Linked DNA regions of Homo sapiens: region 2 is linked to region 1. The links come from fine-mapping of genetic effects on gene expression. A gene starts in region 1. The other region holds a variant in brackets. All regions are shown on one strand. Distances are from middle to middle. Region 1 holds the start of CYBC1 (cytochrome b-245 chaperone 1). Region 2 has its middle 3.8 kb from the start of PDE6G.

The links. PIP is the estimated chance that this variant, and not a neighbour inherited with it, causes the effect.
Region 2: its variant is fine-mapped to the expression of CYBC1 in fibroblasts (GTEx, PIP 0.97).

The regions. Positions count from the first base shown.
Region 1 is chr17:82,448,202-82,452,405 of GRCh38, forward strand. CYBC1 (cytochrome b-245 chaperone 1) reads right to left here and starts at 2,551. Exons shown (of 7, transcript NM_001033046.4): 1 at 2,499-2,551; 2 at 969-1,091. The coding sequence starts at 1,053. RefSeq lists silencers at 892-941, 2,252-2,611 and an enhancer at 1,362-1,621.
Region 2 is chr17:81,658,163-81,662,612 of GRCh38, forward strand. It overlaps a transcript of PDE6G not described here. Among named protein-coding and RNA genes, the nearest start is that of PDE6G, 3.8 kb to the left of the region's middle. The variant T/C (reference allele first, on the strand shown) is at 2,518.

The DNA of each region.
Region 1 (4,204 bases):
GGTACAGGACCCTACTGGTGGGTAGCGATGGAGGACGGGAGGCTAAGTGGACTGTGAGTCCTACGAAGAGGTCTGAGGACCAGGGAGGAGGAGACATGGGAACCCACGATCACCCATCACGTGGTTAGTGGACTGTGAGTCCTACGAAGAGGTCTGAGGACCAGGGAGGAGGAGACATGGGAACCCACGATCACCCATCACGTGGTTAGTGGACTGTGAGTCCTACGAAGAGGTCTGAGGACCAGGGAGGAGGAGACATGGGAACCCACGATCACCCATCACGTGGTTAGTGGACTGTGAGTCCTACGAAGAGGTCTGAGGACCAGGGAGGAGGAGACATGGGAACCCACGATCACCCATCACGTGGTTAGTGGACTGTGAGTCCTACGAAGAGGTCTGAGGACCAGGGAGGAGGAGACATGGGAACCCACGATCACCCATCACGTGGTTAGTGGACTGTGAGTCCTACGAAGAGGTCTGAGGACCAGGGAGGAGGAGACATGGGAACCCACGATCACCCATCACGTGGTTAGTGGACTGTGAGTCCTACGAAGAGGTCTGAGGACCAGGGAGGAGGAGACATGGGAACCCACGATCACCCATCACGTGGTTAGTGGACTGTGAGTCCTACGAAGAGGTCTGAGGACCAGGGAGGAGGAGACATGGGAACCCACGATCACCCATCACGTGGTTCAAAACAAGTACAAAGGAAAATATGGTGACCTCAGAAAAGCTCATAGAGTATATTAAATACGCTGGGTGTTAGTGATTAAAAGGGGACAAAACAGACATGCATTATCTGTAAAACCAAGTACACCAGATAGAATTTGAATGGATACAAAGAAACAAAATAGCCATTAGATTTCAAGGTAATAGAAAAAAGAGAAAATATTTTGTTTCATTTTCATCCTTTTTGAAAGTCAGGCTTCCGGTTCTGGGGTTCTGGGGAGGGACGTGGAGAGCCTTACCAACCAGCAGGGACCAGGACCGGATGCCTGGAGCCCTCTTCAGATGGAGGCGGGAGCTGGTGCGGGTCTCCACCTGCAGGTACATCCCGAGAGGGCAGCACCACTCTCTACAGGAGGAGGGGTCTGGGAACAGACAGAGGCAGCTGAGCCCTTGGGCCTGCACACAGGCAGGCGCCCACGCCATCAGGCCCAGTCTGGAGGCCAAGAGCAGGTCCCCCAACTAAGTCACCTGCAGCCCCAGACACCATCAGCCAGTCTCACCTGGTCTCTGTGGTTGGGCACGTCACTGGATCCCCCAGAGACCCCGTTTCCTGTGTAAGGAAGGCCCTTTTCCGTTCACAGCGACACCGACTGCGCGGGGGCTGTTTCCCGCTCAGACTCACGAGCTACAGCTGCATCACCACCTGCCCCGTCCTGTCTGGAAACCTTATGTCCTGAGGCCGCTAGCCCCCAGCAGCCTTTAAGCTTCTAGCATCTGTGGGCACCCCCTCTCCCCTGTGCTGGCCTCCACCAAGAAAGGAACTGAAAGTCCCATCATGGCTTCCGGCCGTACTGGCTCTCGCACTGGCATGGACCAACGATCTCAGCTCTCTCTCTGCCCTCCTCCACCTGCTGAAAGTTCAGACTGCACAGTAGAGGGTCCCAAAGCGGCCAGAACCGACGAGTCACCAAAGGGGCTAATCTTCCACAGCGGAGTTCCGCACGGGCGCAGCAGCCCTGCCACTTCACCGTACGCTCCCAACACTGGCCCCAGGGACCCCGTTCTGGTAGTTTCTCAGGGCTTTCCCTGTGAAGTCAAATCAAATTTCTGACATTAAGTAGGGGGTTCAGGCTGGGCGCGGTGGCTCAGGCCTGTAATCTCAGCACTTTGGGAGGACGAGGCGTGCGGATTGTTTGAGTCACGGAGTTCAAGACCAGCCAGGGCAACGTGGCGAAACCCCGTCTCCACAGAAAATACATAAAACAGCCCGGTGTGGTGGTGTACGCCTGTGGTCCTAGTTATTCAGGAGGCTGAGCTGGGAGGATCACCTGAGGCCGGGAGGTGGAGGCTGCAGTGAGCAGAAATCGTGCCACTGGACTCCAGCCTGGGTGACAGAGTGAGACCGTGTCTCAAAAAAATAAAAAATAGTGGGTTCAAATCACACAAACCAATCCTAGATGCTGGTATATGACTGGGCTCCCTCCCGGGCCTCAGTTGCCTCATTGCTCCCGAAACACCCGGCATTCCACATCCAAATGCACACACACACGCACACTCGCGGACACAAGCACACGCGCGCTGGCAAAGCCGCCCGCGCCGCTAGTCGCACCGAGCGCTCGTTTCTTTGTCCGGATCGGGGGCGCTCCCGCCGCCGGGGCCAACCTGCAGCGGAACAGGCGCGAGGCCGCCCGCGACGGGCACGGCGGGACACGGAACAGCCGGCAGGCGGGCCCAGGACGCAGACCCCTCCCGGAGTGGGCCTAAGGGTGCCGGGACGCGCGGCACGGAGCGGGAAGGAAGTGCGGAGCCCACCCAGCCCAGCCGCCTACCGAGAGCACAGCGGTCCCCGCGCCGCAGCAGAGAGACGCGAACCGGCGGGGGCGGGGCCGCGCGCACTTCCGGGATTGGAGCGGAGCCGAGCCGACTTTCGGGGGCGGGGCCGCGCGCGCTTCCGGGATTGGGGGCGGGGCCGCGCGCGCTTACGGGATTGGGGCGGGGCCGCAAGCATTTCCTGGATGGGGCGGAGCCGAGCGGATTTCCGGGATCCGGGCGGAGCCGCAGGAGGAGGCGGGTGGTTCCTGCTAAAGAAGCCAGTTTTCTTGAAAAAAAGAAACGTGCGGGGAAACGTATCCGACAGCAAAGAACTTACCAAGGACTATGAACGTCTTGCTAACATAGAAGCGAAACTGAAGCGGTTCTCATTGCCAAAAAAGAAGATTTGAGCATGAATAAGAACAGGAATTCGAGTGAATTTAAAATCCTCAGATGCTCCAGTCTGTAATTCATAATAATGTATTTTTTAACTCTGTTCACCTTTGGAGGATGCTGGTAAGCTCACCCCAGTTTGTGGCCTGGTTAATAAAAGGAAAGCATCAAGCATTTGTCCTGCCTTTATGAAATTTACAGCAGAGTAACCAAATACTGCATGAGAAGAATTTCTCATTATAGAAGTTTTCCCGCTAATAAATGAAGAAGAAACAGTAGGATTAAAACATCACCCTATGAATTAACGGACCTAGGCAATGTCATCAATGACTGCTAATTAACATCGCAAAAAGGTCAGTTAGATATCAGAAGTACACAACACTATGAAGTAGTCTTGCCAGAAAAAATTTAACCTGAATGTGAACAAGCTTCTAGAGTGAATTACTGGAAATGTGGAAGACAAGACTGTACTAAAGGATTCTACAAGGATACAGTCAGCAATTCGAAACCTCAACCATCTGAATGGACCCTTCCGCTTGGCCAAGAGCATTCCCAAGTTATCCTGAAAAACTAGCTCAGGCAGTGATGGGAAGGGGGAGACAGACATACCTCACTCCCTCCTCCCTTTTGGAATTCAGGCACACAGCTGACCAGCATTCACATTAAAACAGATCTTGAGGTGGCCAGGTGCGGTGGCTCACGCCTGTAATCCCAGCACTTTGGGAGGCCAAGGTGGGCAGATCACGAGGTCAGGAGATTGAGACCATCCTGGCTAACACAGTGAAACCTCATCTCTACTAAAAACACAAAAAAATTAGCTGGGCGTGGTGGCGGGTGCTCATAGTCCCAGCTACTCGGGAGGCTGAGGCAGGAGAATGGCGTGAACCCGGGAGGCAGAGCTTGCAGTGAGCCGAGATCGTGCCACTGCTCTCCAGCCTGGGCAACAGAGTGAGACTCCATCTCAATAAAAAATAACAAAACAAAACAAAAACAGATCTTGAAGTTGACAAAGTAGACTCTGTAGCAATGACGCCAAATTCCAGCCTGACTCTGGTATAGGACTACATGACAGATAGGAAGCCTTGGAAGAAATGGAAGTACTTTACCCCACATTAAATTTCTTCGACTTATTTTGAAATAGCCCTGCAAAGCTGTCCCTTGTGAAGAAAATCTACATTCTGTAGCGAATCCCCGTTCCTTTCCAGGTCTTTTTCCTGCTTCAGGGAGAACTCTGATAAGAAGCACTTACAATCTATTCTCTCTGAAGCCTGCTACCTGGAGACTTCCTCTGCTTAATGGAAATCTTGGTCTCCACAAACCCTTATCTTAA
Region 2 (4,450 bases), 790 kb before region 1:
CAACCTCTGCCTCCTGAGTTCAAGTGATTCTCCTGCCTCGGCCTCCTGAGTAGCTGGGATTACAGGCTCCCACCACCACGCCCAGCTAATTTTTAATATTTTTAGTAGAGACAGGGTTTCACCATGTTAGCCAGGATGGTCTCAATCTCCTGACCTCGTGATCTGCCCACTTTGGCCTCCCGAAGTGCTGGGATTACAGGTGTGAGCCACCGTGCCTGGCCACAGTGGCTCACTTCTATAGACCCAGCTACTTGGGAGGCTGAGGCAGGAGGATCCCTTGAGCCTAGGAGCTCGAGGCTGCAGTGAGCCATGGTCAAACCACTCCAGCCTGGGGGACAGAGAGAGACCCTATCTCTGAAGAAATATGAAAATTTTGAAAAATTAAAAATAAAACCTGGACGGGCATGGTGGCTCACGCCTGTAATCTCAGCACTTTGGGAGGCCGAGGCAGGTGGATTACTTGAGATCAGGAGTTCAAGACCAGCCTGGCCAACATGGTGAAACCCTGTCTCTACTAAAAATACAAAAATTAGCTGGGCGTGGTGGCATGCACCTGTAGTCCCAGTTACTCAGGAGGCTGAGGCAGGAGAATCGCTTGAACCCAGGAGGTGGAGGTTGCAGTGAGCTGAGATTGCACCACTGCACTCCAGCCTGGGCAACAGTGAGACTCTGTCTCAAAAAATAATAATAAAAATATAAATAGTAAAATAAAATAAAATGTATGAGTACTCCTTTTTTGGTATCATGTATCACAGACAATATACAAAGACAATCACATGAAAATACATAAAGCTCCAAATAGACCTAAACAAAGACCCTATAGCCTTGATTGTAAAACTCTAGCCATGAGACTGGCAAAAATCACTAGTCCAGAAAGGACGGCTGGATTCAAGTTATGCTGCAATAAATGGAACAAGTCAAAAACCTCTTGTCCCACATGGCTCAATCCCTCACTCAGCCCCAGAGGAAACAAGATTGCAATCCATATCTTTTTTTTTTTTTTTTTTTTTTGAGAGACAGGATCTGGCTCTGTCACCTAGGCTGGAATGCAGAAGTGAAATATCGGTGGCTGCAGGAATTCAAGGCTGCAGAGAGCTATTATTGTACCATTGCACTTTAACCTGGGTGACAGAGCGAGACCTCAACTCTGAAATAGTAAAATAGGCCAGGCATGGTGGCTCATCCCTGTACTTTTGGAGGACGAGGTGGCTGGACCACCTGAGGTCAGGAGTTTGAGACCGGCCTGGGCAATATAGTGAAACCCCATCTCTACTAAAACTAAAAAAATTAGTGGGGCGTGGTGGCGGGCGCCTGTAGTCCCAGCTGCCAGGGAGGCTGCGGCAGGAGAATCATTTAAACCCGGGAGGCGGAGGTTGCAGTGAGCTGAGATGGCGCCACTGCACTCCAACCTGGGCGACAGAGGAAGACTTCATCTCAAAAATAAATAAATAATAAAAAAGAAATTAAACGGTGATGTGGAACACTCTTTAAATTGTCGTTCACCACATTTTCATATCTTCACAATAATGCAAAACACAGTCACTTGCAGAACCGGTTCTGATGACTTAAATACCAGGTACAATTTTAGCCCTCTACGTAATTGCTTGGAAGTTACTTATGTTTACATGAAATGAAACTATTAGGCCGGGCACATTGGCTCACGTCTGTAATCCCAGAACTTTGGGAGGCCAAGGTGGGCGGATCACCTGAGGTCAGGAGTTGGAGACCAGCCTGACCAACATGGAGAAGACCTGTCTCTACAAAAATACAAAATTAGCCGGGCGTGGTGGTGCATGCTTGTAATCCCAGCTACTCAGGAGGCTGAGGCAGGAGAATCGATTGAACCCAGCAGGCAGAGGTTGCAGTGAGCCAAGATCGTGCCATTGCACTTCAGCCTGGGCAACAAGAGCGAAACTTCATCTCAAAAAAAGAAAAGAAAAAAAGAAAAGAAACAAAATGAGACTATTAGGCTGGGCACGGTGGCTCACACCTGTAATCCAGCACTTTGGGAGGCTGAGGCAGGTGGATCAGCTGAGGCCAGGTGTTCGACACCAGCTTGGCCAACATGGCGAAACCCTGTCTCTACTAAAAATACAAAAAATTAGCCAGGCGTGGTGGCAGGTGCCTTAATCCTAGCTACTGGGGAGGCTGAGGCAGGAGAATTTTTTGAACTCGGTAAGTGGAGGTTGCAGTGAGCAGAGATTGTGCCATTGCTCTCTAGCCTGGGCGACAGAGACTCTGTCTCAAAACAAAAAAATGAAGCTATTAATACTTTTCTACAGCAGTAACTACACACAGGAAGACCAAGACAAGCACAAGTTAAGGAATGGAGCTTTCCCAAAGCGGCTGTGTATAAAGACTATAAACTGTTTTTTGTTTGTTTTTTGAGAACAAACAAACTCACTGCAGCCTTGACCTCCTCAGGCTCAAGCAATCCTGCCACATCAGCCTCCTGAGTAGCTGGGACTACAGGTGCTCACCACCACACCCGGCTAATTTTTGTATTTTTTGTAAAGA[T/C]AGAGTCTCACTATGTTGCCCAGGGTGGTCTCAAACTCCTAGACTCAAGTGATCCGCCCGTCTCAGACTCCCACAGTGCTAGGATTACAGGCGTGAGCTGCCGTGCCCGGCCGGACATACGTAGTTTTTTGCCATGGCTTTTCTTGTGTTCTCTATCTACAGGCTAAGCAGATTCTGTGTGCTGCCCTGGGGTCTTTAATTACTTCAAGTGCTCATGTTGAACTATGAATATGATTGTGTGTGTGATTGTTTTGTTTTTAGAGACAGGGGTCTCTGCCACCCAGGCTGGAGTGTAGTGAGGCAATCATGACTTACTTCCGTCTTGACTTCCTGGCCCAAGTGATCCTCCTGCCTCAGCCTCCCAAGTAGGTGGGATTACAGGCACACACCACCATGCCCAGCTAAGTTTTTAAAAATTGTTTTGTAGGCTGGGCATGGTAGCTCATACCTGTAATCACAGCACTTTGGAGGCCAAGGCAGGAGCCCAGGAGTTTACGACCAACTTGGGCAACGTAGGAAGACCCCCATCTCCACATACAGACACAGACAAAAAACAATGAACCGGGCATGGTGGCACTTGCCTGTAGTCCCAGCTACTTGGTAGGCTAAGATGGGAAGATCACTTCAGCCTTGGCGGTTGAGGCTGCAGTGAGCTATGCCTGATGGTGGCAGGAGGCAGTCGAATGCCTAGGCAGATACGGGCAGGTCCCCAGTGAAACCCCACCTTCAAGCCAAAGACAAAAAGCCTGAAAGCCAGCCAGGCACAGTGGCTCATGCCTGTAATCCCAGCACTTTGGAAGGCAGAGGTGGGTGGATCACCTGAGGTCAGGAGTTCGGGACCAGCCTGGCCAATATGGTGAAACCCCGTCTCTACTAAAAATACGAAAATTAGCCAGGCATGCCGGGTGCAGTGGCTCACGCCTGTAATCCCAGCACTTTGGGAGGCTGAGGCGGGTGAATCACAAGGTCAGGAGTTCAAGACCAACCCTGGCCAAGATGGTGAAAGCCCGTTGCTACTGAAACTACAAAAATTAGCCATGCGTGGTGGTGGGTGCCTGTAATCCCAGCTACTTGGGAGACTGAGGCAGGAGAATCGCTTGAACCTGGGCGGCAGAGGTTGCAGTGAGCCCGAGATTGCGCCACTGCACTCCAGCCTGCGACAGAGTGAGACTCTGTCTCAAAAAAAAAAAAAAAAAAAAAAATCAGCCGGGCATGGTGGCAGGTGCCTGTAATCCTAGGTACTCGGGAGGTTGAGGCAGGAGAATCACTTAATCCCGGGAGGCAGAGGTTGCAGTGAGCCAAGATCGCACCACTACACTCCAACCTGGGTGACAGGGCGAGACTCTGTCTCAAAAAAAAGAAAATCTTTAAATCTACCTATGACCTGGAAGCCCCCTCCCTTCAAGTTGTCCCTCCTTTCCTGACCAAACCAATGTACATATGATAGGTATTGATTGATGTATTATGTCTCCCTAAAAAGTATAAAAGCAACATGTGTCCACGTTGGGCACATGTTGCCAGGACCTCCTGAGGCTGTCACAGGCATGTCGTCAACCTTCGCAAAATAACCTTTCCAAACTTATTGACCACTAAAGAACTCATCCCTGTAACCAAAACCTGCCTGTTCCCCAAAAAGTATTGAAATAAAAAATAAATAAATTGGCCAGGCATGGTGGCTCACACCTGTAATCCTAGCACTTCAGGAGGCTGAGGTGGGCAGATGGCTTGAGGTCAGGAGTTGGAGACCTGCCTGACCAACATGGCAAAACCACGTCTCTACTAAAAATATAAAAATTAGCCAGACGCTGTGGGGCACGCCTGTAGTCCCAGCTACTTGGGAGACTGAGGCAGGAGAATCGCTTGAACCCGCGAGGTGGAGGTTGTGGTGAGCCGAGATCGCGCCACTGCACTGCAGCCTGGGCCACAGAGCAAA